Homo sapiens: one gene and its partners. The protein of the gene in region 3 purifies or fractionates together with the protein of the main gene of each other region. This does not show direct contact. Each region holds a gene or a part of one and is shown on either strand. Other genes may lie near its edges. The genes, in order: GUK1, HEATR3, ESD and HMGCL.

Region 1 (7,875 bases), on a different chromosome or scaffold from region 3:
GCACCTCACCTAGGCTCAGAACAGGGCTGGGGCTGACCCTAGGGGTGGCTGGCAGCACGGCCCTGTGCTGCCTTAGACAGGCAAGCTGGGGGAGCACTGGGGAAGGAGGGAGGCAGCCTGAGCAGAGGAGGCTCCTCACACACCACACACAGCCCCTGGGGCAGCTAGGGGAGGGGCATCTCCCTCAGGGAACCCCTTAGACCTCGAGATCTAGAACCTCCAGCTGCCAGAGCTCAGGGGCCTCTCCTGGAACCTCTGGCCCATGCCAGACCCACAGGGTCGGGCACCAAGAGGCAGCCCTCAGGGCCCACCCCTGCAGCCTCAGGCTGCCCCATGCAGCCGCTTCCTGCTCCCCACTTGCCAGCCTGCCAGGTGGGTTGGGACCAGCCCTGCCACCTTCCCTGCCTGCCAGTCAAGCATCATGCTGCCCTGGGGCAGCAGCCACGAGCCGGCAGGCAGCAGATGCCTAGGCAGAGGCCATCTTGTGGCCCTCCTTGGGGCTGGTGGTTAGGGTGGGCTGCCGGAGCTCAGGGCCCGATCGGGATGATGGGGCCCCACCAACCTTGGGGCCACATTCCACTCATTTATGGAGTTTCTAATCCAACAGTTATTTTATTAGGATGTCAGCCCTGGGTCCAGAGTGAGAGATAGGGACAGGGGACAGCCCAGCGAGGCTGGGTCGGGGGTCACCCCAGGATGTTCCAACCACAGGGGCAGCATCTCCTCCACTCCACATGCTGGCCAAGGGCACAGAGCTGCCGTATCGCCTGCCAAGGGGGTGGCTCAATGCTGCTGCCCTGGTCCTGTATGGGCCCGGGGTGCCGAGAACAGACAGCAAGCCTCAGGCGCCGGTCCTTTGAGCTTTCTTGATTTCCTGCCAGTGAGGAAGAAAGGGAGTTGGGAGGGCTGGTATCCAGGAAGGGCTGGGCTTCCTGCTCTCCCTCCACCGTGGACCTCGGTGTCTCATGCCAGTGCTTGGGTAGGACTGTCCCATCTAACCTCAGTGGCCTCATGGACAACAAAGGCCTGGCCCCCAGGCCTCCCCTTGGGCCTTGCCCAGGTAGGCACAAGGATGGGCCCACCTCAGAGAGCGCCTCCTTCAGCTCTGCGTAGGCCTGGTCCAGGCTGTCGTTAATGATGACCACATCAAACAGGCCGGGCTCCTTGCCTGTGGGTGGGGCCTGGGGTCAGGGCACAGTGAGCCCATGCAGCCCCACCCCAGGTCCCACACGACCCCCAGAGCAGCCCACTGGCCTGCGGCTGTCCTCACTGCGGCTGTGGGACAGCTTTCCAGCCCAGCCGGGCCTGTGCAGGGTAGGGAAGGGCCGCCCCCTGGGCCTCAGTCCTCAGGCACCACTCCTGCTCTCTCTGGAGCCCCAGAACTTGGGTCTGGACACCAGCACCCATCAGGACTCTGGTTAGGGGCTACACTATCCTCTACACACACAGCAGAACATTAAATGCCCTCTTCTTGTGGGCTGCAGTCAGACCCAGAGAAGAGGCAACAGCTGTAAGAGGATGCACATGACACCCCCGGGGCTAGAAGGTTGGGGACATCTCATGGGACCCTGGGCGATGGGGGGTCTGGGGGCCCTCACGGAGACTCTGGGTAACAGAGGGAAATCTGAGGACCCTCAATGAGACCCTTGGTGACTGGGGGTGGGTTCTGGGGACCCTCACGGGGACTCTAGGTGTTGGGAGGTAGTTGAGAGGTCTGAGGACCCTCACAGGGACTCCAGGTGTCAGGAGGTCTGGGGACCCACAGGGTCCCTGGTGCCACAGACCTCAGAACCCTGACTCCCCTCCTGGCATTCCCTGGTGATCCCACGGCACACTCACTGCTCTCCATGTCGGCCTGGGCAGCAGCCAGCCGCTTCACCAGGCTCTCCTCGGTTTCAGTGTTGCGCTGCCGCAGCCGCTGCTCCTAAAAAGGGGGTGGCAATCAGAGCCTGGCATGCCCTGGCCCCCAGCCCCCAACCCTGCCCAGCACACACCAGCACGTGCAGTGAAGGCGGCTGCACAGAGATGTAGATGGGCCGCAGATCGGTGGCCTTGATGTTCCGCACACCCTGCAGGTCCACGTCCAGCACACAGATGCGGTTCATGGCCTGCACGGCCTGCACCGCCACCTTGCTGGGGAGAGGTGCCAGGTCAGCAGGGGTGCCAGGGCTCTCTGAGGCCTACAGGAGCTTCAGGGACACCCAGGCCCTCCCGGGCCCAGCGTTCTCCTCCCACAGCTGAGCCTAGGCCTGGCCTGGACCCAGCACCCGACAGCATCTCAAACCTGCTACCCCCACGCCCTGCCCCGCCTACAGGGAACAGAGGCCACCCACTCCCCAAGGTGCCTGTAGTGAGCATGAGGTGTCCTGTGCACCCTTCACCCTGCCAGGACAATGCACGGTGGCAGGACCGGGCCCAGCAGCCTCATGAAAAGAGCCACTGTGGGCCACAGACGTGGGAGCCTGGCCCTGGGCCACAACCTGGCCACATTCATAACCATGGGGTGGGTGGTGTGGATGGCGGGCAGGCAGCAGGCACTACCTGGATCCCTGTTGCCAACAGCAACCCTGGGAGCCCACCCACACCCACGCATGGCCCACCTCGTGCCATACAGGTTCCCCGAGAACTCGGCATGCTCGATGAAGTCGCCGGCTGCTATGTCACGCTGCATCACCTCCCTGGTTACAAAGTAGTAATCTGGGGAAGAGGAGGGGCCATCCAGAGGGCAGACTGGACCTGCACCAGGGTGCCCAGGGCCAGCTGCCCCCAACCCAGGCATGCCTGCAGGCCCCTCCCACACCCACGACTGCTTTAGTCAGATCCTTGCTGGGCAGGAGACATCTGAGGACCCCTCAAGTGCTGCCAAGTGCCTGAGCCAGACACCATTTCTCACACTGTCCTCACTGATGGAGATACGAGACTGCTGGGTTCCAGTGGGGAGTTGGGAGTTGGTGGTGATGGGGTGGGGACTGGAGACCAACAGGTTCTGGGGGAAGGTGGTGGGGGAACTGGAGACCGTCAGGTTACAGAGGGGACGATGTGGTGGGGTGACTGGAGACCACTGGGTTGCACGGCAAGGGGCGGGGGTGCTGTTGGGAAGGGGGTCCCTTGTCTTGAATCAGGCAGGCAGAGTAGCCCTTTTTACCAGGACTCCAGAAGACAGCTCAAAAGTGCTGATAAGTGCCGAGTCCAGGACAGGGCTGGGGACAGCAGCACTGTGGCCGCCTCCAAGGTGGGAGGAAGACAGCCCCAGGCCTTGGCCGGCCTCTCACACTGTACCCAAGGAAGGCGACACCACGCTGTGGCGCTGACACCCTGATTGAGTTCACCGGCCCTTGGAGGCAAGGACCCATCTCACAGATTAGGGATTGATGGGGGCAGGAGACGGGCAGCACAGCCAACACAGCTGCAGGGCCCAGCAGCCCTGCCCACACTGGGGGTGCTCCAGCCATAGGGCCCCACCCCACTCACCTTTGCCGTTCTCCTCGCCGGGCCTCGGGTTCCTCGTGGTATCTAGCAGAGAGACCTGTCACCCATCGGGGGCTGCTCGGAGCCCAATGCCCCACCCAGCGTTTCCCTTGCAGTCCCGACAGCACTTGAGCCCCAGGATGCAGGCAGCCAGTGAAGCACACCACTGGGAAGGCGCAGGAGCCTACAAGGCGAGGGTTCTCCCAGAAAGAAACACTGTGGCCCAGTTATCAGTACTCAACAGACCCAGGGAAGGGAGACACAGGCACGCAGGACAGCAGGAGTGTGATAACCTCAGGTTCTGTGTGGGGGGGAGTGTGCAAGAGTTCGGACAGTCTGCAGGGTGGGTGTGCCTGTTGGGTTTGGGCTCCTGGCCTGCTCACGGTGCTAGGACTACTCAGCAGCCTTGAGGTCTACGCACCCCTCCACGAGAGCCCTGGACTCACGGGACACGCTGAAGCCAAAGATGCCGCTGTGCTCCTGGAGCAGCCTCTTCAGCAGGGTGCTCTTCCCAGCTCCCGAAGGCCCGCTCAGCACCACAGGCCTGGGGCCCGACATGCCTGGGGGTGAGAAGAGAGGCTGTGGATAGCAGTGCGGCCTCTAGTCCCCATCTGCTGAGCTGCCTCTGCCTTCCTGAATTCATGGCAGGAAAGGGCTGACCCAGGGATGGAGACATTGGCCTGAGAGTCTCCTGAGAGCCTGGGTGTTCTTCCCCCTGAGCTCTGCCACGTTGGAAGGGCCGGCATGCACAGGGCGGCCCTCAGACCAGGCTCTGGGCACACGGGAGACGAATGGAAGGCCGGCTTTACTGGGTTCTCAGCAGGGGAGCCCCCCAACTGAAACCCACTGACCCTGTCAGCCTCCCCAGGGGTCCCTAGCAAGCAATGCTGTCTACTCTGATGACACCCTACCTGGGAGCTGCCGTCCCCACCTGGTGGAGTCACCTCCAAGCCCTCTGGGAGCCTGCTCTGAGACCCCCACCCCACCCAGGAGTCCAGCCATTTGCTCCCATGCATGGTGCTGAGTGCTGGGCTGCTAGGTCTGGAATGGAAGTGTCCCTGTCCCCGCCTCTGTCCTCTGGTACCTTGCCCTGCAGATATGGTCTTGTAAAGATCTACTGAATCTACACCTATTCCAGGAACTTCTCATAGGACTTGGGACTCCTATCTGTGATGCTGGTAATGCCAGAGGGGGTTGGAGGCCTCCCTCCCAGCCCCCAAGGGAAAGGCAAACAGGATCCTAGCTTGGACACGTGGCAGGTGAGGGCCCGGGAGCTGGCCTTTGCCTGGTGGGAATCCTCCCCAAGAACAGGGCCTACCTGTTTGCTGAGGTGCAGCCTCTGTAGTCAGCCTGGGGTGGGTCTGTCTGCTGGACTGAGAGCTGGGGGTGCTGAGTCCCTAATCCCCACTACGCCTGCTTCTGGCCCCACCCTTCTAAGCCACGAATAAATCCCCAGGGGGCCTGGCCCTGGGCCCTTGCAGGGAAGCAGCCCCATCCACCTGCTCTGCGGCTGTGCAGGAAGGAAAAGACAGCTCCAGCTCTTGCCCCAAGACCTGCACCTGCCCTGCCCTCCCAGTCCACATGAGCTGCACACACAGGGCCAGGGCAGCGTCTTCGAGTTGGGATGGGGAGCAGAGCTGAGGAGTGGGGCCGTGCACTGCAGCTGTGTTCAGGGGCTGGGCTAGAGGGAAGCGGATGGACCCCTGGCCACACGCACACCTTGGACACAACTCAGGCGAGGCGTGAATGGCCTCCTCCTGTTTAGGGCACAGCCGCCTGTGGGCAGACGAGCAGACAGTGGGAAGGACCTGAGGATGCCCTCCTAATCCCCAATTTAGGCCACCGAGGTAATCTCACAAATGCACCACGGCTGCAACTCCATCATGCACAGCGACACCCACCACACACATGCCACTCCCAGGCACAAAGGTATGCAGGATGTGTGCACAAACCTACCACAAACACACACACATGCATGCACACACAAACACACACACAAATGCACGCACACCAAGCAAATGCACACACACCACACATGTGTACCTGCAAAGGTACACATGCACACGCATACATGTCATTGATCACAAACACACCGGACCCCCAGTTAAAAAGACTCAAGAGGAAGGGAACTGCAGGACACCCACCCAGAAGTCCATGTGCTCTCCATAAGGGATAGACTCCTCCCTCCTTACTGCCTCTTCTGGGCTTTTTGTCACAAGCACACATCGTTTTCATCTCACCATGCACCCCATGCCCTCCTGGCTCTCCCACCCGCAGAATTTGCCCCTGCGCTTAGCTCGGGCCTCCCCACTAACCTGGCTCCTGCTGCTCACCCAGCCCTGCCACCTCCTCTACGTGCCAGCCAACCATCAGCACGCACTGCAGTGGCCAGGGTTCTTTATCCATTCAGCTTCTCCCAGCCAGCGAGCCCTGCAACCTCCACAGCCTGGTTCCCATAATGCACTAGCTAGGAGCCCCCCAGAGTCTCCCACAATCAATGAGCCATGCCACTTGTGTGAATTTCTGGCCCCTGCTTCTCGCCAGGGTGGAAGGGGTACAGTTCTCAGGACACATCCAGCAATTGCTACACACCTACTTGAAGCACTGAGATCACAGAAATTATGACTTGATGGTATTATGGTGACTTTTCTAATACGAAGGAGAAAAAGTAAAGCTAAATCATGTGCTTCGAAGGACCCGATATGGGAGAGCTACTCAAATGGTCCTGTGGGCTGGACCCCATGTGAGCTTCTGTCCTGTTGCTCCACTGAGCTGGCCCTTCTTAAGGTCACTCTGCCCTGCCAACCCACAACCAGCATGGCACTGGTGGGCCTGACAGGGCTGCCCCAAGGCCGGTCCTGCCCTGTTCCCCCCAGCCCCTGGCTCCAAGCTCTTCGGGTCTGAACCTAGATGCTACGTGACTATAAACCCACACAGAAGGAAACACAGTGGTGACCTCCACTGACCAGGCCTCCCCTCCTCCCTCCTGAGGGAGCGCTAAGCTAGTGAAGTGAAGCTGGGCCCACAGGCAGAAGACACCAGTTCGCCCAGCTGCTGCCAGGCAGGGGTCCAGGCTCCAGCCTTGCCAAGGGCGTCGTCTGCACAGCTGTGCCTACACTCGCCCAGCACAGGGCACAAGGCACACGTGGCACATCAATCGCCAAAAACTCTGGGAGTTTTTGCGTCCTCAGAAGGGGGAGAGCCACACCTTCTGAGGATCCCACCAAACTACCACAAGACCCTGGTCTCCATCCCCTCCTCGGCCCCAAACCCCATCCCCGATGCCCAGGAATTGGGGAGCTCGTGCCTCACTTCCAACTCCCAGGAATGGGGGGTGCTGGAGTCCCACCTCTGGCTCCTGGGTTGGGGATCTCCCCCTTTCCTCGCAAGCAGCAAGTGGCAGGTGTGTCTCTTCACCACAGGGCCCTGACAACGATCAGACACCAACAGATGCAACCCAGCACAGAGCAGACAGCAGACGCTGGTGGGCCCCAACCCCGCCTGTTTCCTCCACAGGTGTTGCCCCTGCACCACCCTTACCCCGCCAAGCCCAGGCTCCCAGGCCTCCCCTCCTCCCTCCTGAGGGAGCAGTAAGCTATTGAGGTGAGGCTGGGCCCGCAGGCAGAAGACACCAGTTCACCCAGCTGCTGCCAGGCAGGGGTCCAGGCTCCAGCCTCGCCAAGGGCGTTGTCTGCGCAGCTGTGCCCACTCTCGCCCAGCACAGGGCACGAGGCACACATGACACACCAATTGCCAAGAACTCTGGACGGGCCAACACTCCGCTCTTCCTGGGTCCCCTGAGTTCGGCTCTGCCCAAGCGTGAGGGCACAATGAGCAGACTACTGGGGGCCCTGGCCAGCCAGAGAGTGCAGAGGGCAGACAGTGAGTGGATGCGGGCCTTGCAGAAGCACAGCCACACCACCACCGCTGGAGACAGGGCGGAGGCACAGGCTGCCTGCCTGCCTGGGGAGAGACCAGTGGCAGGGCGGTCACCAAAGCCACCTTCCATGGAGCACACCCAAGGGAGAAAACTGTGGCCCAGGCCTCAAGGCTCCTGCAATCTTGCGGTGGAAACCACGGAGCCTTTGCCCTGACCAGAACACATGCGCCAAAGGTGTCTTCCTGTGGGCAGAGGGAAGCATTCCAGCAAACATTCTGTGCTCTCCACTCTCACCAACCCACAGTCGCAAACTCCAATCAGCTGCCTGGCAAGAAGCCACACAACCCACAACTGTAAGGACCTGCCAGGCACGTGGTCTCCACAGGAGCTCCGAGATGGAAGGTCTCCTGGGAGCCGCCGGCGCAGATCCATGTTCCGGAATGGTCTCTGCCAGAACGCTCCCTGGACTGGGCTCCCATGCTGCCCCAGCAGCCGCTTTCCTGGAAAGGCACTCCCTGCTGTGGCGG
Region 2 (8,288 bases), on a different chromosome or scaffold from region 3:
AAAAATTAGCTGGACGTGGTGGCACGTGCCTGTGGTCCCAGCTACTCGGGAGGCTGAGGCAGGAGCTGATTGCTTGAGCCCGGGAGGTCCAGGCTATTAACAACTTCACTCTGATTTTTGAGTGCCTGTTAGGTACCACGTTTTATGAGACAGCCCTTGTTACTTCATTGTCCTGCTGAGGAAGCTGAGATTTAGGAACCTTAGCTGAGAGGTTAAGGAACCTCTTCCAGGTCATTCTTTTTTTTTTCTTTTTTCTTTTTTTTTTTTTTTTCCTGAGACGAGTCTGGCTCTGTCGCCCAGGCTGGAGTGCAGTGGCGCGATCTCGGCTCACTGCAAGCTCCGCCTCCCGGGTTCATGCCATTCTCCTGCCTCAGCCTCCTTAGTAGCTGGGACTACAGGCGCCCGCCACCACGCCTGGCTAATTTTTTTTTTTGCATTTTTAGTAGAGACGGGGTTTCACCGTGTTAGCCAGGGATGGTCTTGATCTCCTGACCTCATGATCGGCCCACCTTGGCCTCCCAAAGTGCTGGGATTACAGGCGTGAGCCACCGCGCCCGGCCCAAGGTCATTCTTTTAGCTTGTATTTATTGAATGCTTTATGTCATACACTGTTCTAGATGGTAGGGATGCAGGCGTGAACAAGATAGGCCAGGTCAATATGTTCGTGGAGTTTGCATTCTAGTATAAATAAATGTTTTATGTGATATTAGCTATGAAGAAAAAAGTAAAAGCAGAATGATATGAGGCGTTACACTAGGCCAGTTAGTGTGGAAAGGCCTCTGTGAGGAGGTAACATTTGAGCCAAGACTAAAATGAAGGCAGGAGGAGTCACATAATTATGTCAAAGGCAGCTCTCTATCCTAGGGCTGAGTGTGTAAAGCTCTCCTATTATTCTGTGATCATTACGGGAAATCCCCTATTTTGGTACATAATACATATCTGAAAATGAAAGAGCCAAAAAATACAATCAGCCGGGATTAGAATTTGAACAGAAGCTGCCTCTCTTCTACCCGGGTAACCTAAAAGTGGGGGATCGGAATGGTATAAGTCCCAGGAACTGTGGGGCAGGAAGTGAGTGTATCTATTGCTACGTAACAAGTTATTCCAAAACTCTGTGACTTAACAACAACAACAATCATTTATTATTTCTCGAAGTTTCCTTTGGTCAAGAATTTAGACAGGGCACAGTGGAGATGGCTTTTTCCTATTCCACAATGTCTAGGCCAGTGGTTCTCAACCATGGCCACTTATCCCCTCCCACCTCCCACCTGGGGACATTTGGCAACGTCTGGAGGTATTTTTGGTTTTACAACTTGGAAATTGCAACTGGTGTCTAGAGGGTTGAGGCCAGGAATGTTCCTTCACATCCTACGGTGCCCAGGAGACCCCTGCGCACACATAAAATGAAGAATTATCTGGTCCAAAATGTCAGTAGTGCAGAGGCTGAGAAATACTAGTCTAGGGCCTCTGCTGGAAGACTCGCAGAGTATGGGCTGGAATCATCCGAAGTCTTGTTCACTCACGTGTCTGGCAGTTGGTGCAGGGGTTGTCAGGAAGAACACCCACAGTGACCTCTTCATGTGACGCAGGCTTCCTCATAACAGGATGGCTGGGTTCCCAGGGCGGAAGTCGAGAGAAAAAAGAGCATGCACACATGCGTCAGGGCTGGAAGTCATACTGCCTTTTGTGACCTAGCCCGTCACTTTGTATTCTGTTGGTTGAAGAAGTCACAAAGTCCCACCCTGATTTAAGGAAAGGAGAAGTAGATTTCACATCTTTATGGGAAGTGGCAAGGTTCTTGAAGATCACACAGGACTTGAAATATTGCCATGGCCATTTTTAGAAAATACAGTCTACCACACCAAGCAAATCTCTTCCCATCAAAGAGGTTAAGGAGCCAACTCCCCTGGGTGACCCTCACTGTCCCTTGCACGTGCCTGTGCCAGCATAATGGCTTACTGCTGGTGTTCTGTTTGTCCCGTGTGGGAAGAAGGGACAATAAGAAAAGTGTGCGAATAAGGAGTAGGAGTGGGAAGGGGATGCTGGGTCAGTTAAAGTGATGGTGCCATCATGTCCTGGCTCTGCACAAGCAACAGTGTGTGGCTAAGCAGTGGGCTTGGGTTGGCAAGGAAGCATTCTGACTCCACCAAAGGTAGTTCTACCCAGCACCCTGATGGAGATCTATGAATGACAGAATTCAGTCTGCAAAAGCTAGCTTAGGTTTATTATGTGCTGAAGTGTGAGTCAAATGAAAACCCAGTGTCTGGAAGTCAAGGACTGTCTGTAGAACACCTCCTTGCTGTGATTATTTTAACCACGATCATCTTTCAGACTTAGGTATAGAGTGTACAGGGGGCTGTTAACTAAATATTTTGGCTTAAATATCGAGGGTTTTTTTTTGTTTGTTTGTTTTATTAAGAATAGCATTTATTAACATTTAGCATGCTTTGTTTTGTTTGTTGCTTCTACAAAATAGCCTATCTTGGAGAAATGCAAATTTTATATTTCATTTTTGTGTTTTAGATTTTGCTAAACATGTTGACTTTCTAGAAGCCATAAGTAGTGCTTTGAGGGCCCTTTTGCAAACAATGGCCTCCAAGAACATTTCCCAGGTAAGAGTTTTAAAATTTTTTGTATGAAACTTGTAAAGATTGTGTATTATGGAGGCAAAATTCATTACTTCACTATTTTAAAAAATACATATTTCTGTTACAAGAATAATATGTGATCTTTGTAAAAAATAAAACAAAAGTGATTAAAATAAAAAGTAATATCTTTCTGCTCCCTACCATCAGCAACACACAGGTGCTTTTAATTTAATTTTTTAAATTTTTTAATATATAGGCTTACTAGCAAAACAAGTGCTTTTTAATCAATACAACTTAATTGATAGATATGTTGTAAATAATTTCTCTATCATTGGTCTTTTTTTTAAATCTTTTTTTTTTTTGAGACAGAGTCTTCCTCTGTCGCCCAGGCTGGAGTGCAGTGGCATGATCTCAGCTCACTGCAACCTCTGCCTCCTGGGTTCAAGTGATTCTCGTGCCTCAGCCACCCAAGTAAATGGGATTACAGGCATGCGTCACCACAAAATTTTTGTATTTTTAGTAGAGACGGGGTTTTGCCGTGTGGCCAGGCTGGTCTTAAATGCCTGACCTCAAGTGATCCACCCACCTTGGCCTCCTAAAGTGCTGGGATGACAGGCGTGAACCACCGTACCCAGCTTTTTTTTTTTTTTTTTTTTTAACATTTCATTACAGACTTTGCAAGCATGCCCTCCTGACCCTTCACAGCAATCCATGTGCACTTCATCTCCCATAGGTGCCTTACCACTTTTGCTACTTTTTACTAAGGAGACTTTTAAACATTCCTAAAAGCAGAGATAATAATGTTGCTTTGTTTTTTGAGACGGGGTCTTACTGTGTTGCCCAGGCTAGTCTCCTGGATTCAATCCTCCCACCTCAGCCTCCCAAGTAGCTGGGATTACAGGTGTGCGCTACCATGTCCAAAGCAGAGATAACCCTATGAGCCTGCATGCACCGTCGCCAAGCCTCAGCAGGTTATTAGCGTCCTGTCATTCTTGTGACATGGTTTCATTCATCTCACTGGGTCCTTATTTTTGTTTCCTGGAGTATTTTAAAGCAAATCATATTAGACCCATCAATATTTTATTATGTAGTTCAGTATGCATGTCTGACAGAAAAATAAATTTTTAAAAATCTTAACCCCAGTACCATTACCCCAAGGCTCCAAATTAACGGATATTTCTTATTATCCTTTGGTTTGCACTCTGAGTTCAGTTTTCCCAGCTGCAGTCTAAGTTCAGTTTTCCCAGATTGCCTTAAAAATGTATTTTAACATGGCCAGGCACGGTGGCTCACACCTGTAATCCCAGCACTTTGGGAGGCTGAGGCGGGCAGATCACCTGAGGTCAGGAAGTCAAGACCAGCCTGGCCAACATGGTGAAACCCCGTCTCTACTAAAAATACAAAAGTTAGCTGGGCATGGTGGCGCACTCCTATAATCCCAGCTACTTGGGAGGCTGTGGCAGGAGAATCACTTGAACCTGGGAGGCGGAAGTTGCAGTGAGCCAAGATCATGCCACTGCACTCCAGCCTAGGCGATAGAGCAAGACTCCGTCTCAAAAAAAAAAAAAAAAAAAAACAGAAAAAGAAAAAAACGTCTTTTAACAGTTGGCTTGTTCAAATCAGGATCTAAGCAAGGTTCATGTGTTGCTTTTGGTTGATATTTTGGTCTCTTATTATCTCTAAAAAAAATTTTACTGAGATTTGATTCACATACCATGCAGTTTATCCATTTAAAGTATACAGTTCAGGCCAGCTGCAGTGGCTCACGCCTGTAATCCCAGCACTTTGGGAGGCCAAGGCCAGTGGACCACGTAAGGTCTGGAGTTCAAGATCAGCCTGGCCAACGTGGCGAAACCCTATCTCTACAAAAAATACAAAAATCAGCCGGGCATGGTGGCAGGCACCTGTAATCCCAGCTACTTGGAAGGCTGAGGCAGGGAGAATTGCTTGAACTGGGAGGTGGAGGTTGCAGTGAGCTGAGATTGCACCACTGCACTCCAGCCTGGGCGACAGAGGGAGACTCTGTCTCAAAAATAAGTAACTAAAGTGTACAATTCAGTGGTTTTAGTATATTCTCATATTCTTAAATCTCTTAGTCTATAGCATTTCCCTCACTCCCCTCCTTTCCCCATACACTTACCCATTGAAGAAACTCTCATTTTGTTCCGTAGCATTTTCTGCACTGGCAGATTTGGCCAACTCATCATGATGGCATCGTTCAGCATTCCTCTGTCCCCCATGTTTCCTGTGAGCCGGGAGCTAGGTCTAGAGCCTTAATTAGATCCAGGTCCAGATTATTTATTTATTTATTTTTTGTATTTATAATAAATAATCTAGACAGGTCCAGATTTTTTGGCAAGAATAATTTATAGTGCTTTATATATTTCCTATATTTATATCACAAATCATATGATATTATAAAATAGTGATGCTGAGATTAATTAGTGGGTTCACATAATGGTTTTATAACCAGTGATTGTGGTTGCCTGGCTCCATTATGTCATTAGTGGGTTGCAGAATAGAGATACCCTAATTTTGTCTTTTCTTTTTTTTTTTTTTACATTTATTAGCTATGATTTTTTTTTTTTTCAGAATAGCTATCCTAGCAATCTCTATAAGTGACCAGTGATTTTTTTTTTTTTAGTATCATTTTGAACTCAGGGTTTTTTATATATTTGTATTTCATTCCATTATAGTCATGCTTTTTGCTGCCAAATTCATCCCATCTTTGGATAGTAGGAGTCCCTTCAAATTGGCTCCTGTGCCTCTTTTACAAGAATTTTAGGTTTTTGATCACTTTTGCTTCCAGGCATAGGATGTCCCAGGTTCAATTTGTAATTTTCTTGCTTAAAACCTGGAATCTGGCCAGGCACAGTGGCTCATGCCTGTAATCCCAACACTTTAGGAGGCTGAGGTGGGCGGATCACTTGAGGTCAGGAGTTTGAGACCAGCCTGACCCACATGGCGAAACTCCGTCTCTACTGAAAATTCAAAAATTAGCTGGGTGTGGTGGCACGCGCCTGTAATCCCAGCTACTTGGGAGGCTGAGGCAGGAGAATCGCTTGAAGCCAGGAGGTGGAGGTTGCAGTGAGCCAAGATTGCACTGCACTCCAGCCTGGGTGACAAGAGTGTGACAAGAGTGAAACTCCGTCTCAAAAAAAAAAAAAAAAAACCCTGGAATTAGTTACTTCTCCAAGAAGCTCTGATTTCTTTAGTGGGGAAAGTGAATTGTGGAGTGCTTATTGCTATCATGTTGCCATTGTTTCTAGGTCTTTTTAGTGGAAATAGCTAGGAAATAGGCATTTTTTTAGGAGACAAAAATAGTAAGTTTATCCTGATAATTTCCAGTTTAAATAAAAAATGGTACAATATTTTTACTTAATTTTCGATTTTGTATTTCTATCTTTTTGTATCCCCCAAAAAGATACATTTGTACCCAAAAAGGTACATTGTACCCAAAAAGATACATTAGTGACATTAAAATTCTTATTTGCAGCTGGTCTGATGGTAGTGGGTTATCAGGACTTATTAACATTAGTGTCACTGAAGTTGGTATACAACCCCCCACGCTAAGTTTGACTGGCTTTAAAAATAATAATAAATAGGTCGGGCACGGTGGCTCACGCCTGTAATCCCAGCAGTTTTGGAGGCCGAGGTGGGCGGATCACAAGGTCAGGAGATCAAGACCATCCTGGCTAACACAGTGAAACCCCGTCTCTATTAAAAAATACAAAAAATTAGCCGGGTGTGGTGGCGGGTGCCTGTAGTTCTGGCTACTCAGGAGACTGAGGCAGAAGAATGGTGTGAACCCAGGAGGCGGAGCTTGCAGTGAGCCAAGATCGGGCCACTGTAATCCAGCCTGGGCGACAGAGCGATACTCCGTTTCAAAAATAATAATAATAATAAATAATTTAAAAATTAAAATTAGAGAAAAGAAAGAAAAATATTTTTCAAAAATTTTATTATTTGCTTTCTCCTACAGAATGTACTTTGTAGTAGTGACATTAAAAGACATTAAAATTATTTGCTATACAGTGATATTAAAATTGTTTGCTGTAGTAACATTAAAATTGTAGTGACATTAAAACTATTATTTGCTTTATCCTACGGAATGTACTTAATAGTATCAAAATAACAATGCTCTTGTTATTGCCAATAACACTATTTCTTTTTGCTTCTTTATATAATTTTTTTCTTAATGCTTTTAAAATTTTTTTATACTTTATTTTTATTTTTTAGTTTTTTAATAGAGATGAGGTCTTGCTATGTTGCCCAGCCTGGTCTTAAACTCCTGCTCTCGAGTGATCCTCTTGCCTCAGCTTTCCAAAGCTAAGAATTTTTTTGAAGAGCATAATTTGACCCTCAGTTTCTAAGAAGTAGGAATGGTAATGGGATGCATAGCCTGCCATGTGGCTGTTGGATGGACCAGAAAACCTTATACTCTAGGGCCTATAGGAATATCAAGTATTTTTATTGATTTCCCCTGGTATGTAAGCAGCAGCTTATGGGATCAGTGTGATGGTTAAGGAAAATTACTCAAAGCCCATGTTCAGGGCCAGGTGCAGTGGCTCATACTAATAATCCTAACACTTTGGGAGCCTGAGGCGGGAGGATTGCTTGAGCCCAAGAGTTCAAGAACAGCCTGGGCAACTTTGTGAGACTTCATGTCTACAAAAAATAAAAATACATTAGTCTAGTGTAGGGGCTCACACGAGTGATAAGTAGTGAAGCTAGGATTTGAACCCAGGGTTCAATCTCCAGATTCCAAGCCTTTGTGTCTGGCTCCAGATTCCAAGCCTTTCATCACTACACTGTGCTGCTGCTTATAGGAGATAGTCTCACTCTGTTGCCCAGGCTAGAGTTCAGTGGCACAATCTCAGCTCACTGCAACCTCTGTCTCCCAGGTTCAAGCGTTTCTTGTGCCTCAGCCTCCTGAGTAGCTGAGATTGCAGGCGTGAGCCACCGCGCCCAGCCTTAAACTGAAAATTATCCACTACATGGTAGAAGCACCATATAATGTAATGGTTTCTACAGTCTTTAATTATGATAATACAGATATCTCAAAGTAAGTTCTTACCTTGTATAGACTCAGCCAATTTTTTTAAAACCACACAATCCTATTTATACTTTCAAAGCCTTTTTCTTACCATTAATATTAAAAAGGAATTGGACTCTCTTTAGTGTGTGTACATCTGGAATGAAAGTCTTCATCAAATTAAATGGAGCCCCTTTGATATTAGATAACAGTGCCGACATGAGCAGGGTTCACCTTAGTTCAGAATTACCAGCTCTGTCTGGGAGAACTGGAATACATATTAATAGTAACTTACCTGCCAGGAGTTTATGTCACTCTTAAAATCCTGTAGCCTATAGAGGAGATTCCTGTCAGTCCGGTTTTCACATGCTGATAGAATTAATTGAGTTTAACATTATAAATACTGTCCTCTTCTCTTTTAACAGTGCATGACTCCTGATCAGCTGATGACATTATGCAAAGCAGGCATTCATAGTAGTAATGTCGGGGTTAGAGTGAATGTCGTTAGCATTTTAGGAATCACTGGCAGCGTCCTTGCCAAAGAAGATGGTACACTTGAAACTCTTAAGGTAAAACAATTTGCTTCTGACCTAACATGTTAAATAATTAGAAATGGGAGAAGAACTGTTGGTGTAGGATTTCTTAAAACTTGTGTGGACTTGAAG
Region 3 (8,288 bases):
AAAAAAACACAACAGGATTATCAAGCAATCTTCTGAAACCTCTGTCCCTATCATGTCATTAAGATGTTGCTCAATTACCAAAAGAATACAATCTCATGCACAGATATTTGTGTGGTCACTCTGCATGTATCACTAATTCAATACCAAACTCCCCCAACCCTGATTGGTTTCATAAATTTCCTCTCTAATACAGTCAGTTCTATCAATTTCATCTACATTAAAAAAACCCCTTCAGACCAGTACTGCCGAACAGAACTTTCTACAGTGATATTAATAAAAATGTTCTATCTATGTATTGTCCAGTACAACAGCTTCTGGTCATGTGACTACTGAGCACCTGAAATGTGGCTAGTGGGACTGAAGTTTTATTAATTAGCTAATTTGATGTAAATGGCTACATGTAATTACTGGCTACCATCTCCAACTTTTGACCTGCTGCTTTCTAGTTGCTGCCTTAATATAGCTCCACTCATCTGGAAACTCTTTCTCCTCTGATCTGTTTTCTTGGATCTTATGCCTTCAGCTATCTTGCTTTAGTCCCTCATTTTGGTGAAGCATATTATTCAGTTGCTTCCAAAAGTGCATGGGAAATACACTTTGAGACCTTTCATATATGAAAACATCTTCATTCTACTCTCACTTAATTGACAATATGGTTGGACATAGAAGTTATCCTTCAGAATCCTGAAAGCACTGCTGCTCTGCCTTCTTAGTTCTAGTAATACCGTTGAGCTGACCTAAACCTTTGAAAAATTCTTAATCTACTTTCTCTTTTTCTCAATGTTTGAGAATTTTCTTTGTTCCCAACACTCTAAAACTTTACTATGTTGTTGGTGTAGATCTATTTTCATCCATTGTACTAGACAACTTTTTAAATCTGGCAACTTCAGTTCTGGGAATTCTTGAATTATTTATTATTTATATCTATACCTCTATTTCTGTTCTATTTTCCAAAATTCCTAACTTTTAATGTTGGATTTTTGGACTAGTCCTCTAATTTTGTTGTCCTTTCTGATTTATCACTTTTATCTTATTTTACTTTCTAGAATGTTCAACTAACCATTCTATTGAGTTTTGTCATTTCTACTACCAAAATTTAAATGTCTAGGCTTTTTTGTAGTTGAGGATTTTTTTATTTTATGTTTTTTGAGACAGAGTTTCGCTCTTGTCGCCCAGGCTGGAGTGCAGTGGTGCCATCTTAGCTCACTGCAACCTCTGCCTCCCAGGTTCAAGCAATTCTCCTGCCTCAGCCTCCTAAGTAGCTGGGACTACAGGTGTGCATAACCATGCCTGGCTAATTTTTGTACATATATATATATATATATTTTTTTTTTTTCAGTAGAGACAGGGTTTCACCATGTTGGCCAGGTTGGTCTCGAACTCCTGACCTCAGGTGATCTGCCTGCCTTGGCCTCCCAAAGTGTTAGTATTACAGGTGTAAGTCACCACACCTGGCCATGTACTTGAATATTTTTTAATAGCATCCTATGAAGTCAAGAGGTCAATATCTTTTATACTTTGATATGAAGAGAAGTTCATATCAAATTAAAGACTTTATACAAATGTCTAGTGATCTTTAGCTGTCCACTCCTATTTAAGAGAGAAACACTAAAAATCTAGTTGAAAGCACTGTGCCTACAGGTGGAGTTGTCAATCATTGCTTTACTGTAAGGTCTGGTTAGGTTACTTTGTTGGCAAATCTCAGTATCTTGAAATCTCTTCCTTTGGGCTACTCAAACTCCCCACAAAGAAATTCTTCTAAAGGATATAAGACTAAGTCCCCAAATTTTGAAAGCTAGTGGAAGAAACTCAGTGTGCAAACTTTTGCTTAATCTATTTGCAGTATCACAATCCCACTAATTGTGTCTGGTATTCCCCAGTACAAACAGTTTACTTTCTCTAGAGAACTTACCTCCAATCTTTCCCAGAGTTAGGAAGAGGCAGTCCATAAAGCTGGGACACTCTCAGATCTATCTCCTTTTAAAAACAGACTTTCAATTAATCTTTTTTCTAAGCTCAACTTTTATCCTTATTTTCAGGGGTCCCTGGTGCCTCCAATTACTATGGCTTTAAATAAATTGTGTCATTTCTCAGGTTTTCTTGCTTATGTTTAGAATGTAGCTTTCTAGGTTTTACTAAGTCAGGTACTACCTCTCCATTTGTATTCCTGCTTCTAAAATGTTATTCTTAGCTCCTGTCTCCTGCTTCTTTATGCCTTTATAGGTATATGTATGTGTGCGTGTGTGTTTAATCTCTTTACTTAATGCCATGTTAGTCAGAGTTTTGGAGGCAGCGGAAGCAAATGCATGTGTTTAGTGTGCCATCTTTCTCAAAAAGTCCAGGTGTTTTTCCTACACTTAGAGATCCTCAAAGAAAATGTTTTCAGAATTTTTACTGGCAACATAAGCATTTTCATAAAGTTTCAGAAGAGCATCATGTCAAAGCTTGAAGATACTTCTCTGTTAAGGCTCTACCTCACACAATCACATCCACAGTTAATTAAGTCTGGTAGAATTGTCAAATACATAACCACAGAAAGAGAGTAAGCAAGTTTAAAAGTAAAATGAGGTACTATAATATCTAGATAAAGATTGGTTTTAAAATAGAACAAAATAATCCAACAGAATGAGGTATCTAAAATTATATCTTCTTAATAGTTACCTGTCATGTTCAAAAACTTTCTGCAATCCCCCAAAGCACTTGTTGCTGGAAATCTGCTTCAATGCCATTCTTTTCCTATTAGTAAAGAGTAATCTCATTAATTTCCAGAGAATTAGTTACTGAAAAACTTGAAACAAAACTAATTGCCTTCAGATAAATTATCTGAACATACAACTATTTTCTACTTAGAATTTTTTTTTCACATTTTTCTCCAGTAAATAATATTAAGAAACTGATTAACGCTCATACATGCATTTACACTTGTTACTCACTTTTAAAAGCTTTCATACTTTGGTATATCATTACTAATTTATTAACAAGTTTTTTCGTTGTGGTGGACTGCCCCAAATTATTTTTAAAAGAGGCAGAAAATACATAAGTTACCAATTAATTACCTTAGTTTAGAAGATTAAAAATTGTTAATAGTCTGCCTATCAACTGCAACAAAGTAGTCAAGGAATTGGTATGACTGATTATAGTTGATTTTAAAATGGAAGAAAGATGTGATAATGATTTTGGTAATAATAATATGTAACATTACTGAACACTTACGGTGTGATACACATTTTTCTAGACACTAAACCAGATCCAATTACTCATCCCATGAATTTTTAAGAGAAAGTGATATGAAACTTTAAGATCAACATTTATTTCTCCTTTTAAAACAAACCAATAAGTAAAACAAGCCTGTTAACTTCTTTTCTGTCCAACAAATCTTTTGTTTTCATGTAAAAATAATTTTAAACTTACATGTAAAATGACATATTTTATTGCTTTTAATGATAAATACAGGAAAAAAGTTGGAAAACTATCTTTATCATAAATGCCTATTAAGCAAAGGGAAACCACACTGATTCTGACATGTACCTCTCAAAGAAAGATTCCCTTTCTATTCCTAGAAACACTGTATTAGAATATAAGGCAGTAAGTCCTACATATTGAAGAAAAAGCTTTAGATATCAGGAACAGGTATTACCACCCTGGTGATCTTCTCAGAGAAATGCACTACTACATGCTAATCAGCTGGAGCTTTAGGATTACTCTTTCAAAGATGTATAACAATAATCTTAAAAAGCTAATTTTGGAAATGTCTTTATAAAATACTTTAAAAAATTAGTTTCAATCTTATCTCTAATTTCTTCAATAAACCCAAATAGTTTTATTTTGGAAGACTGGGATTTGAACCCAGAAGTCTGACATCAGAAGCCCTACTCTTAACTGCTATGCTGTCCTGACTCTCTAGAGGTTCTTTAAATACTCATTTTTTAAGACACTTTAAGATAACTGATTCTATAGAATTATGATATTACAACTGTACACAAAGAAATTACCATCTGCTCAGTTTTATGCTTTTAATCTATAAAAGATTAATTCTTAAACAATAAACTCCCATGAGATGTTATTAGTTACTGAATATTAACTTTAGCTACTGTTAACAATCCTATCTTAAATAATGAACTTATAGAGAGAGATACTAATTTTAATATATTAATACATATATATGAGACCAACAAATAAAATTTATTTGCTCCATTATTCCACAAGGAAACCAGATTTTCTTAAACTTAGAAAGGACTATATCCACTTTGCAAAAGATGGTACACTGAGCACGTATCTGGTACATAGGAGTCTGTATCTTTGCTATTCGTCTATTTTAATAAACCTCAAGTTGTCAGTTTTCTCTGCTCTTAAAATTCAAAATCAAATGCTTTTCATTTGGCCAGAAGAAACAAGATTAAAACACTTTTTAAAAGTTGGTAGAATATTTTTTAAAAAACAAAGCTTTTAAAGTATTTTTTCTACCCACCATTTTAGAAACTATCTTTAATTACAAATCAAAAAAATATGTTAGGCTTAACAAGAAATATGACATAAACTAAGAACTAGATATGACATACTGTGATATACTATGATATCTGATACATTATAATAGGTGGTTATATTTTTCAATAGAATTTTTCTATGTGAAAAATAGCACGTTTTAAAACAAGCTATTAGTGGTATTTTCATTCAATGTTCAGAGTAACATATAAACAATAAAACAAGTTTACCTGTCCAATTGCTGATTGCTTTTTGCTTGCACCAAATGGTAGGCGATTCTGAAAAAAACACCAATGGTTTACAAATGGGATATACTTTTCACAGCAAAGGTTATACAGAGCTTTTATATGCATATGCATTCTCAATAGAGATGTTTTCTTCTTTTGAGGTAAATGACTGTACACCCTGATGGGATACCACATCACCACTTAATTACCTTAATTGCCCATAATCTAATTATTTGCCACAGGCCACCTTAATACCTATTTTGCCATAAAGCTTGTTGGTACTTGGTCAAAACCATCTGCTGAAGTAAAAGTACTATGAAAGTTTTTTATCTTTTTAAATCAATAAACAAAGTTTTCAAGTGTAATTTCGAAGCATGAGATGTAGTCAACTCCTGAGTGAAGAAAATAAGAGTGGGGACTAGGTAAGTAGAGGAAGATGGATCTATCTGGCTCAGTTGTAAGTCGAACTTGTAACATGGGGAGAAAGAAGGGAAGAGATGAGGACTGAAGGACTACTACTAGGGTGACTAGAAAGGATGTATAAGAAAAGTGGGCTTATGAACGATGAAGTGACTGATATTCAGTAAGAAAAATATATATGGAAACTTACATAGTATATATCATGTCACTTATCTGGTAGATTTCATTTAGGCTCTAGAACAAATATATATTTAGGTTCTAGAACAGATTTTGTGGGAGAAATAGGGTGACAGAGTAGGGTGGAATACCAAAAAACCAAACAACACCCTTCCTCCTTCCCCTCCAAAAAACAACAACAACAACAACAACAACAAAAACAGAAAAACAATTTCACAGTGCCAGTGGGAGTTACACAATTTTTCCCAAATGTTAGTGAACATCAACATTCTTTGGAGAAGAAAGGGTCTCTCAGTGCATAATACATCCATTCCCCTAAAGGTCAAACCTTACTGTTCTTCCCTTTATTTTTTATTTTTTGGAGATGGGGTCTTGGCTGTGTGGCCCAGGTTGTAGTACAGTTGCATAATCATGACTCAGTGTAACCTAGAACTCCAAGCTTCAAGTGTTCTCCTACCTCAGCCTCCTGAGCAGCTAGGACTACAGGTGCGTACCACACTGGAATATTTTTTTTTTTAATTTTTTGTAGAGACAGGGCCCTTTACTTATTAAAGTTAAATGTCATCCACCTCCAGAAATCTGAGTTCTATTTTTATCCTTCTTCCCCTGTGTCTCAAGTTTTCCATAAATCTCTACATGTGTTTTTTTGTTCCCATTCTCTCAGATTCCTTGGATTTTGATGTTTCTTCATTTCCAGGATGTCCTATTCCACTGGCTCTTAACAACCTAGACAGGTGTTCCCAAAACCAACAATCTACAGTTCCAATAACTGCTGTTGACCACCACTGTGTTGTTCAAATCCTCTTCTCAGTGAAAACTCAGGATCTGGCTTCTTCCCTTTCACTCTGTCTCCTCCCACCTCCCTTTTCTTTTTTCTTCACACTCTTTCCCTAAACCTCATTCCCTAAATTTCAACTACATTTTCTGGGTGAAATAATCTAAATCTGCATCTCTATAACCAATCTTTCTCAAGCATTAGTACCCATAATGACATTTCTTGCTGGACTCTTCTACCAAGACATGTCACCAGCTATTAAAACTTACCACACCTAAAATTAAGCTTCTGCATCTCACCTTCAAACCATTCCTCTTTTCATTGCCTCTCTTTTTCAGACTCATGCCTGTCTTGCCTAATCTACATTTGAGATGCCTCAAAGTTACCTTCTTTTTGAATTCCCACTGCCATCATCCTAATTATATATAAGAAATTAAAACTTAGCCTCTTCCTTTCTTCCTAATACATCCCACTACGATCAATCCTGCATGAAAGCCTAGGGTTTTAATCCACTTAATTTACTGGTCAACGGATCCCTACCAACAGCTCATCTGCAGCCTAATACGGCCTACGTGGAATTGTTAGTCATTTTTATTTAGTATTTTAAAAACTGTGATAAAAACACATACATAATATTTACTATCTTAACCATTCCTAAGTGTGTATTTCAGTAGTGTTAAGTATCCATTAGTCATATGTAAAAACGCAGTTCGCCAGCTCACAATAATGAGCAGATGAGAACTGCCTCATCACCCCCTGGCTGCTGCAGGTGGAGACTACTAATCCCTTTCGCTGTTAGGCCAGTCGCTGAGAACCAGAAAGTCACTGAAATGGAAGACCATGTTAATTGTACAATTTTCTTCAAGTTTAATGCCATTAAAATTTCATAAAATTAAAACCATGCAGGATCACTGAAAAAATAGATGAATAAAACTCCATATAAACTTCAGTCACACTCTACCTGTGTGCAAACACAGTCTTTTTTTTCTTCTTTTTTTTTTTTTTGAGACAGGGTCAAACTCTGTGGCCCAGATTGGAGTGCAGTGGCCTGATCTCGGCTCACTGCAATCATCTCGGCCCCCGGGCTCAGGTGATCCTCCCGCCTCAGCCTCTGGAGTAGTTGGGACCACAGGTGGCACCACCATGCCCAGGTAATTTTTTGTAGAGGAGGTTTTGCCATGCTGCCTAGGCTGGGTCTCTTTTCCTTCATAAAAATTCACATGGCTTGCCTAGGTAAGGATTTCTATTAAACTCTGGGGAAAATTTTTTAAAAAAAATATAGCATCTATAAACGCCAAACACCTTCACATGGCTCTAAATATGGTCTATAATTTGGTCCCAGATTATTTTTCTGGTCTCACTCCCTATTTTGTTAGTTAAACTCAACTATGCATAATTCTAGGATGGCCTGGATGTTGCTATCGGGTGGCTTTACTCAATGCCACGGTACAATGGTTTCAGAGCAGGTTTTGGGGCCAGACCCTCCGGGTTCAAACCCTGACTTCACCACTTATTACTACATGACACTGGGCAAGCTAATCTATGCCTCATTTGCCCATCTGCAAAATGGGTATACAGTAATATATATCAATTTGATAGGGTTGCTCTGGGAATTAAATGAGTTAATTCACGTAGTGCTTAAAATGCTGCTTCTACCACACACACAAACATGAGCTATTATTTTTCCTGCAACCTGAATGCCCTCTCCTTCCAGGTGCGCTCAATCCCATTTCCCTAATGACCCCATCAGAAATGACTTCCAGTCCCCCACAGCGCTCTGAGAGCATTTTACGACCCGAACAGATTTTGTCAAACTCCAAAGACACGTGCTCCCCTCGGCACCATCAGGTGAGTGCTCCTGACCGCGCCATTGGCTCGTGCCCCGACGCGGACGCTGCCTAGAGCAGCAGGTCCACACTCCCCCGAACCAGGCGCCGGCGGCCGCTAGTAACGCGTTGAGGCCAGCTCCCTCCTTAAAATGCGTACACATCTACTTCACATTTTCGCGCGGTGGCTGCGGGTCTAGGAAAGTCTTTCTGAACAGGAAAAAGCTGTACAAATGTAGCGGGCAGTAGGTAAACGGGCGCTCGCCCCGGGTTACACTAGGTTGGAGGCTCAGAGAAGGAAAAGGGATTAGAGGCGAGGCTCCGGGTCACGGGAAAAGGTCCTTGGCCTCCTGTCATGGATGGTGGCGCCCAAGGCCCAGG
Region 4 (5,463 bases), on a different chromosome or scaffold from region 3:
GAAGCCATACTGGAATAGGGTGGGCCCCTAATCCCATACGACTGGTGACCTTAAAAAAAGATGGCCAGCCGGGCGCAGTGGCTCACGCTTGTAATCACAGCACTTTGGGAGGCCGAGGCGGGCAGATCATGAGGTCAGGAGATCGAGACCATCCTGGCTAACACAGTGAAACCCCATCTCTACTAAAAATACAAAAAATTAGCCGGTCGTGGTGGCACACGCCTGTAGTCCCAGCTACTCGGGAGGCTGAGGTGGGAGAATCACTTGAACCTGGGAGGTGGAGCTTGCAGTGAGCCGAGATCATGCCACTGTACTCCAGCCTGGGCGACAGAGCAAGACTCTGTCTAAAAAAAACAAAAACAAAAGATGGCCAAGTGAAGACACAGAGACACAGAAAAGGTGGCCCTGGGAAAACGGAGGCAAAGACTGGAGAGATGCATCTACAAGCCAGGCAATGCCAAGGACTGCTGGCCACCACCAGACCCCAGCAGAGAGGCATAGGACAGATTCTCCCAGAGGCCTCAGAAGGAACCAATCCTGCTGACACCTTGATTTGGGACTTCTGGCCTCCAGACTGTGAGAGAATAAATTTCTGTTGTTTTTAAGCCACCCAATTTGTAGTGCTTTCTTTTTTTTTTTCTTTTTTCTTTTTTTGAGACAAAGTCTTGCTCTGTCACCCAGGCTGGAATGCAGTGGCATGATCTTGGCTCACTGCAACCTCCGCCTTCCGGGTTCAAGTGATTCTCCTGCCTCAGCCTCCTGAGTAGCTAGGATTACAGGTACCTGCCACCAAGCCTGGCTAATTTTTTGTATTTTTAGTAGAGACGGGGTTTCATCGTGTTAGCCAGGATGGTCTCGATCTCCTGACCTCATGATCCGCCCGCCCTGGTCTCCCAAAGTGCTAGGATTACAGGCGTGAGCCACCGCGCCCGGCCTGTAGTGCTTTCTTACAGTAGCACTAGGAAACAAACACAGTAATTTCTCTTAATTAAAAAAAAAAAAACTTTGATTTTCCCCAAGGAAACCACCACCACTGCCATCACCACCCTGGAAGTCACTCTTGAGAAAAAGCTTTTTTTTTTTTCTTGCTGTGTCACCCAGGCTGGAAGAGTGCAGCGGTATTATCATGGCTCACTGCAGCCTCGAACTCCTAGTCTCAAGCCATCCTGTGCCTCAGTCTCCCGAGTAGCTAGGACTACAGGTGCATGCCATCACAGCCAGCTAATTGATTTTTTTTTTTTTTTTTGTAGAGACAAGGTCTCCTTATGTTGCTCAGGCTGGTCTCAAGCTTCTGGCCTCAAGCTGTTCTCCGGCCTCAGCCTCCCAAAGTGCTGGGATTATAGGTGTGAGCCACTGTGCCCAGCCAAAAAAAGGTTTTTGCCTAAATACAGAACCAACGCCTCCAAAGATGTTCTTGTCTAAAATTGTAAGAAAGTTGGCAGATGCCAGCAACTACTGTTGAAACTCTTGTGGAGAGTTTGGTTACATTTCTCTAAAGAAGTGGATAATCAAAAGAGCTAACATTTATTAAGCAGTTACCTTTTATCTGGCTCTTGCTAAGCAATGTACATGCATCCTATCTTCTGAAATGCTCACAACTTCAGGTACTATCATTTAGCCCTATTTTATAGGCTTGTCAACTTGTCAAGATCACAGAGCAGTGAGTGGCAGGGCCAGGTTTGCCCCAGGGTCTGGCTGACAGACAAGCTATTCAGATGGACATCCCAGGACAGGGGACTGAGGCGCCAAGACAAGGCAGGGACCAATGCCATCAATCTCATTTCAGGAGCCCCCACCAACAAGCTATCCTCTTACCGCTGCCTCGAAGCCTTTCAAATTTGGGGTCAGGACTGGGTAGTTGATGCCAGGAAACTTCTGAATGCCCTTCAAGACTTCAGTGTGGTCACCCATCTAGGAACCAAGGGAGACATTGCCAAGTCATCACCAAGAGCAGACAGAGAGTTCAGTTAGAGAAAACCTTTTCATCACAAAACCTCTGTTCTCCAGAACTCTTAGCGAGTAATTCCTTCTGCAGAGCTGAGTCTCTCCAATACTTTTACTGTTTGTTTGACTGCTGATGGCTCAGAAGGGCCCTTGGTTTGGCTGAGATCCCAATTTCTCCATATGGCCCATACTGCCAGCTTTACATATGCAGAAACAGCAGGAATACTACTACCAGCCATTTATTGAGAATGTACTCTGGGCCAGGCACTGAGCTCAGCTCTGTGTTAAGCACTCCTTTGTAACAGGATGTTTCTTCTTCACTTAACTATCTTTGTGAAGCAGGAGTTGTCAGTCTTCCTCTTTTACAAACAAAGAAACCACAGACAGGCATAGAGGGTTTTAGACTTTAGGGCTAGAAGAGGTCATCTCTAACACTGAGGAGGGGAAGGCCTTAGCAATGTCACTGAGCAAGTCAGAGCAGAGCCAAGACTGAACCCAAGGCCCTGAATCCTGGGTCATGTTCTTTTGCTGCAACACAGTGCTATGAATCACCTGAGACCTCTCAAAGCCAGGGGCTTGGAAACCTATGTTCTCAACTTCTACTTGCTTCAAAGGCAAATGCAAAACTTTTCATCCCTAGAGAAAGGCCTTTCATTGAGGGCTAGGGCTCACCTGGGGAACCCACTTAGGAGACACAAAGCTGGTGGTTTCTATAACAGAGAGTCCTGCTTCAGAAAGCATGTCTATCAGCTTGATTTTCACTGGAGTAGATACGATATTCTATAGTGGAGAGAGAAACACCAAGGCAGCAAAGTTAGTAACAAAACAGCCTCAAAATGCAGTACCTGTTAGTTCAAGTACTATAGATAATTTTTTGCAGTGGATGCAGCTTCTCACCTGAAAAGGAGTTATTTACATAGAAACATTATTCTGCCATGCAGGCTTTCCCGTAAGTAAATGTGTGTTAATTTATAATCCCATCATAAACAAACTGAGAGCAATGTGTGATGGCCTGAAAGGGCAGAGATGACTAACCCTCTGGGGAGTATGGGATGGGGCCCCCAAAGTATCACACCCTCCTCGCTTCTGTCTCCCAATTGGCATAGGACTTCAGCCTCATGTGTTCAGCGTATAGCTTCTTTATCTTCCTCCCCACCATGTCCAGTAGCTCAACAGATTCCATGGATTCCTCTTTCCAAATCTACCATCATTATCCTGTATATAACATGGCATAGTCTCAAGCCACTAATTCATCTTACACAGGAATCCTCCTAAAATGCAGCTTCCAACCTTCCATTCTCTTGCATCAAAAGCTTTCTATGGCTCCCTAATATTTACAGGATTACGCAAAAAATTCTAAGAACTCCAGGTCCAGGCGGACACATTGGCTCACGCCTGTAATCCCAGCACTTTGGGAGGCTGAGACAGGCAGATCATTTAAGCTTAGGAGTTTGAGACCAGCCTGGGCAACATGGCGAAACCCCCTCTCTACAAAAAATACAAAAATTAGCCAGGCGTGGTGGCACGTGTCTGTGATCCAGCTACTCAGGAGGCTGAGGTGGATCACTGGAGCCTGGGAAGTCGAGGCTGCAGTGAGCAATGATTGTGCCACTGCACTGAGTGACACAGAGCAAGACCCTGTCTCAAACAAAAAGAACACACAAAAATACTCCAGGTCCTTCTCGCTAGGTCCTCCCCTTGCCTGCCTTCTCCAGTTTCTCTCCCACTGCTCTAACTTAATCTTTCCACAAAATTTTTTTTTTTTTGAGATGGAGTCTCACTGTATTGCCCAGAGTGGAGTGCAGTGGCACAATCTCAGCTCACTGCGACCTCCGCCTTCCGGGTTCAAGCGATTCTCCTGCCTCAGCCTCCAGAGTAGATGGGATTACACAAGCATGCCACCACCCCAGCTCATTTATTTTAGTAGAGATGGGGTTTCACCATGTTGGCCAGGCTGGTCTCAAACTCCTGACCTCAGGTGATCTGCCTGCCTCAGCCTCCCAAAGTGCCAGTATTACAGGCATGAGCCATCATGCCCAGCCTGTCAAATAATTTTTGAAAGCCCTCCATGTTGCAGGCATTGTGCTAGGTGCCGGGGATATAGCAGTAAGCAGAAGCAGAACAGACAGGATTCTGCCCTTCGGGAACTTACACACTATTGTTTCCAACAAGCACTCACTATTAAAGCTAGGATGGACGTGCTAAAAAAAAAAAAAAAAAAAAAAAAAAAGAGAAAAAGAAAAAAGCTTTTCTTATTGAAAAAATAATCAATATATGATTCTTTCAGAAAAACATGCCAAAAACAAAAGAAAACCACCCTTAGAATCTCCCAGTGATAACGCTATTAACACCCTGGTGTGTAACTTTCTAGATCTGTGCAGCCCAATATGTCACTAGTCACATGTGGTTATTTAAATTTAATAAAAATTGTATAAAAATAAAAATACAATTCCTTGGCCACACTAGTCACATCTCAAGTTCTCAAGGGCCACATGGGTATAGTGGCCACCACATGGAAAAGCTCAGGTCCAGAATATTTCCATCTTCACAGAAAGTGCTGGTCTAGGTCCTAGTCTAGATAAATGCTCCCATACATATATAAACTTTTTTCTTACATAAAAGTGTTAAGATTAAAAAATACATGGCCAGGCGCATTGGCTCATGCCTGTAATCCCAGCACTTTGGGAGGCTGAGGCAGGTGGATCACCTGAGGTCGGGAGTTCAAGACCAGCCCGGCCAACCTGGTGAAACCCCATCTCTACTAAAAATACAAAAATTAGCTGGGCATGGTGGCAGGGGCCTGTAATCCTAGCTATTCGGGAGGCTGAGGCAGGAGAATCACTTGAACCCGGGAGGAGGAGGTTGAGGTGAGCCGAGATTGCGCCATTGCACTCCAGCCTGGGTGACAGAGTGAGATGCCATCTCCCAAAAACACACACACACACACGCGCGCGTGCGTACGCGCACATGCACTATTTGTTTTTGTTTGGAGACAGAATCGTGCTCTGCCTCAGCCTCCTGAAGTGCTGGGATTACAGGCATGAGCCACCACCATGCCCAGTCACATGTACTATTTTATAAACTGCTTGAGTCACTTTATATATACCTATGTTATTAATGGCTTCATAATATTTCATTTTATAAAAAGTCCATAGTGTATCTGACCCAACTTTCCTCATACTAAATATTTAAGTTGTTTCCAACTGTTCTGTGCTTACCAAACAGGTTTGTAAGGAACACCCCCAAGGCTAAATCTCTACATTTGGCCTTCGTGACTTGCTTTGGATAAATCCCCTTACATGGAATTGCTGGGTCTACCCCACCCCACTGGGCTGTGGACCTGGGGACACCAAACCTGTTGCACCACCATTCAGTTTATATATATACATATATTTTTTAATAAGATAGAGTCTTGCTATATTGCCCAGACTGGTCTCAAACTCCTGGGCTCAAGCCATCCTCCCACCTCAGCCTCCCAAGTAATTAGGGATGACAGGCATGAGCCACCCATCCAGCTTG

What was found.
Region 1: the proteins of ESD (region 3) and GUK1 fractionate together in Homo sapiens (co-fractionation; one large-scale study listed by BioGRID). This does not show direct contact.
Region 2: the proteins of ESD (region 3) and HEATR3 purify together in Homo sapiens (affinity purification with mass spectrometry; one large-scale study listed by BioGRID and IntAct). This does not show direct contact.
Region 4: the proteins of ESD (region 3) and HMGCL fractionate together in Homo sapiens (co-fractionation; one large-scale study listed by BioGRID). This does not show direct contact.

The regions. Positions count from the first base shown.
Region 1 is NC_000001.11:228,141,664-228,149,538, reverse strand, and holds the end of GUK1 (guanylate kinase), read right to left. Parts: coding exon of another isoform or gene 7,710-7,875; intron 4,844-7,709; exon of another isoform or gene 4,787-4,843; intron 4,029-4,786; coding exon 3,915-4,028; intron 3,514-3,914; coding exon 3,472-3,513; intron 2,698-3,471; coding exon 2,601-2,697; intron 2,134-2,600; coding exon 1,995-2,133; intron 1,925-1,994; coding exon 1,840-1,924; intron 1,169-1,839; coding exon 1,083-1,168; intron 875-1,082; coding exon 842-874; coding exon of another isoform or gene 687-841; 3' UTR 588-686; downstream 1-587. UniProt on the Homo sapiens protein: Catalyzes the phosphorylation of GMP to GDP. Essential enzyme for recycling GMP and indirectly, cyclic GMP (cGMP). Involved in the cGMP metabolism in photoreceptors. It may also have a role in the survival and growth progression of some tumors.
Region 2 is NC_000016.10:50,092,182-50,100,469, forward strand, and holds part of HEATR3 (HEAT repeat-containing protein 3), read left to right. Parts: intron 1-2,523; coding exon 2,524-2,612; intron 2,613-8,048; coding exon 8,049-8,192; intron 8,193-8,288. UniProt on the Homo sapiens protein: Plays a role in ribosome biogenesis and in nuclear import of the 60S ribosomal protein L5/large ribosomal subunit protein uL18 (RPL5). Required for proper erythrocyte maturation.
Region 3 is NC_000013.11:46,788,685-46,796,972, forward strand, and holds part of ESD (S-formylglutathione hydrolase), read right to left. Parts: intron 4,761-8,288; 5' UTR 4,713-4,760; intron 2,737-4,712; 5' UTR 2,730-2,736; coding exon 2,662-2,729; intron 1-2,661.
Region 4 is NC_000001.11:23,814,860-23,820,322, forward strand, and holds part of HMGCL (hydroxymethylglutaryl-CoA lyase, mitochondrial isoform 1 precursor), read right to left. Parts: intron 2,725-5,463; coding exon 2,617-2,724; intron 1,912-2,616; coding exon 1,816-1,911; intron 1-1,815. UniProt on the Homo sapiens protein: Mitochondrial 3-hydroxy-3-methylglutaryl-CoA lyase that catalyzes a cation-dependent cleavage of (S)-3-hydroxy-3-methylglutaryl-CoA into acetyl-CoA and acetoacetate, a key step in ketogenesis. Terminal step in leucine catabolism.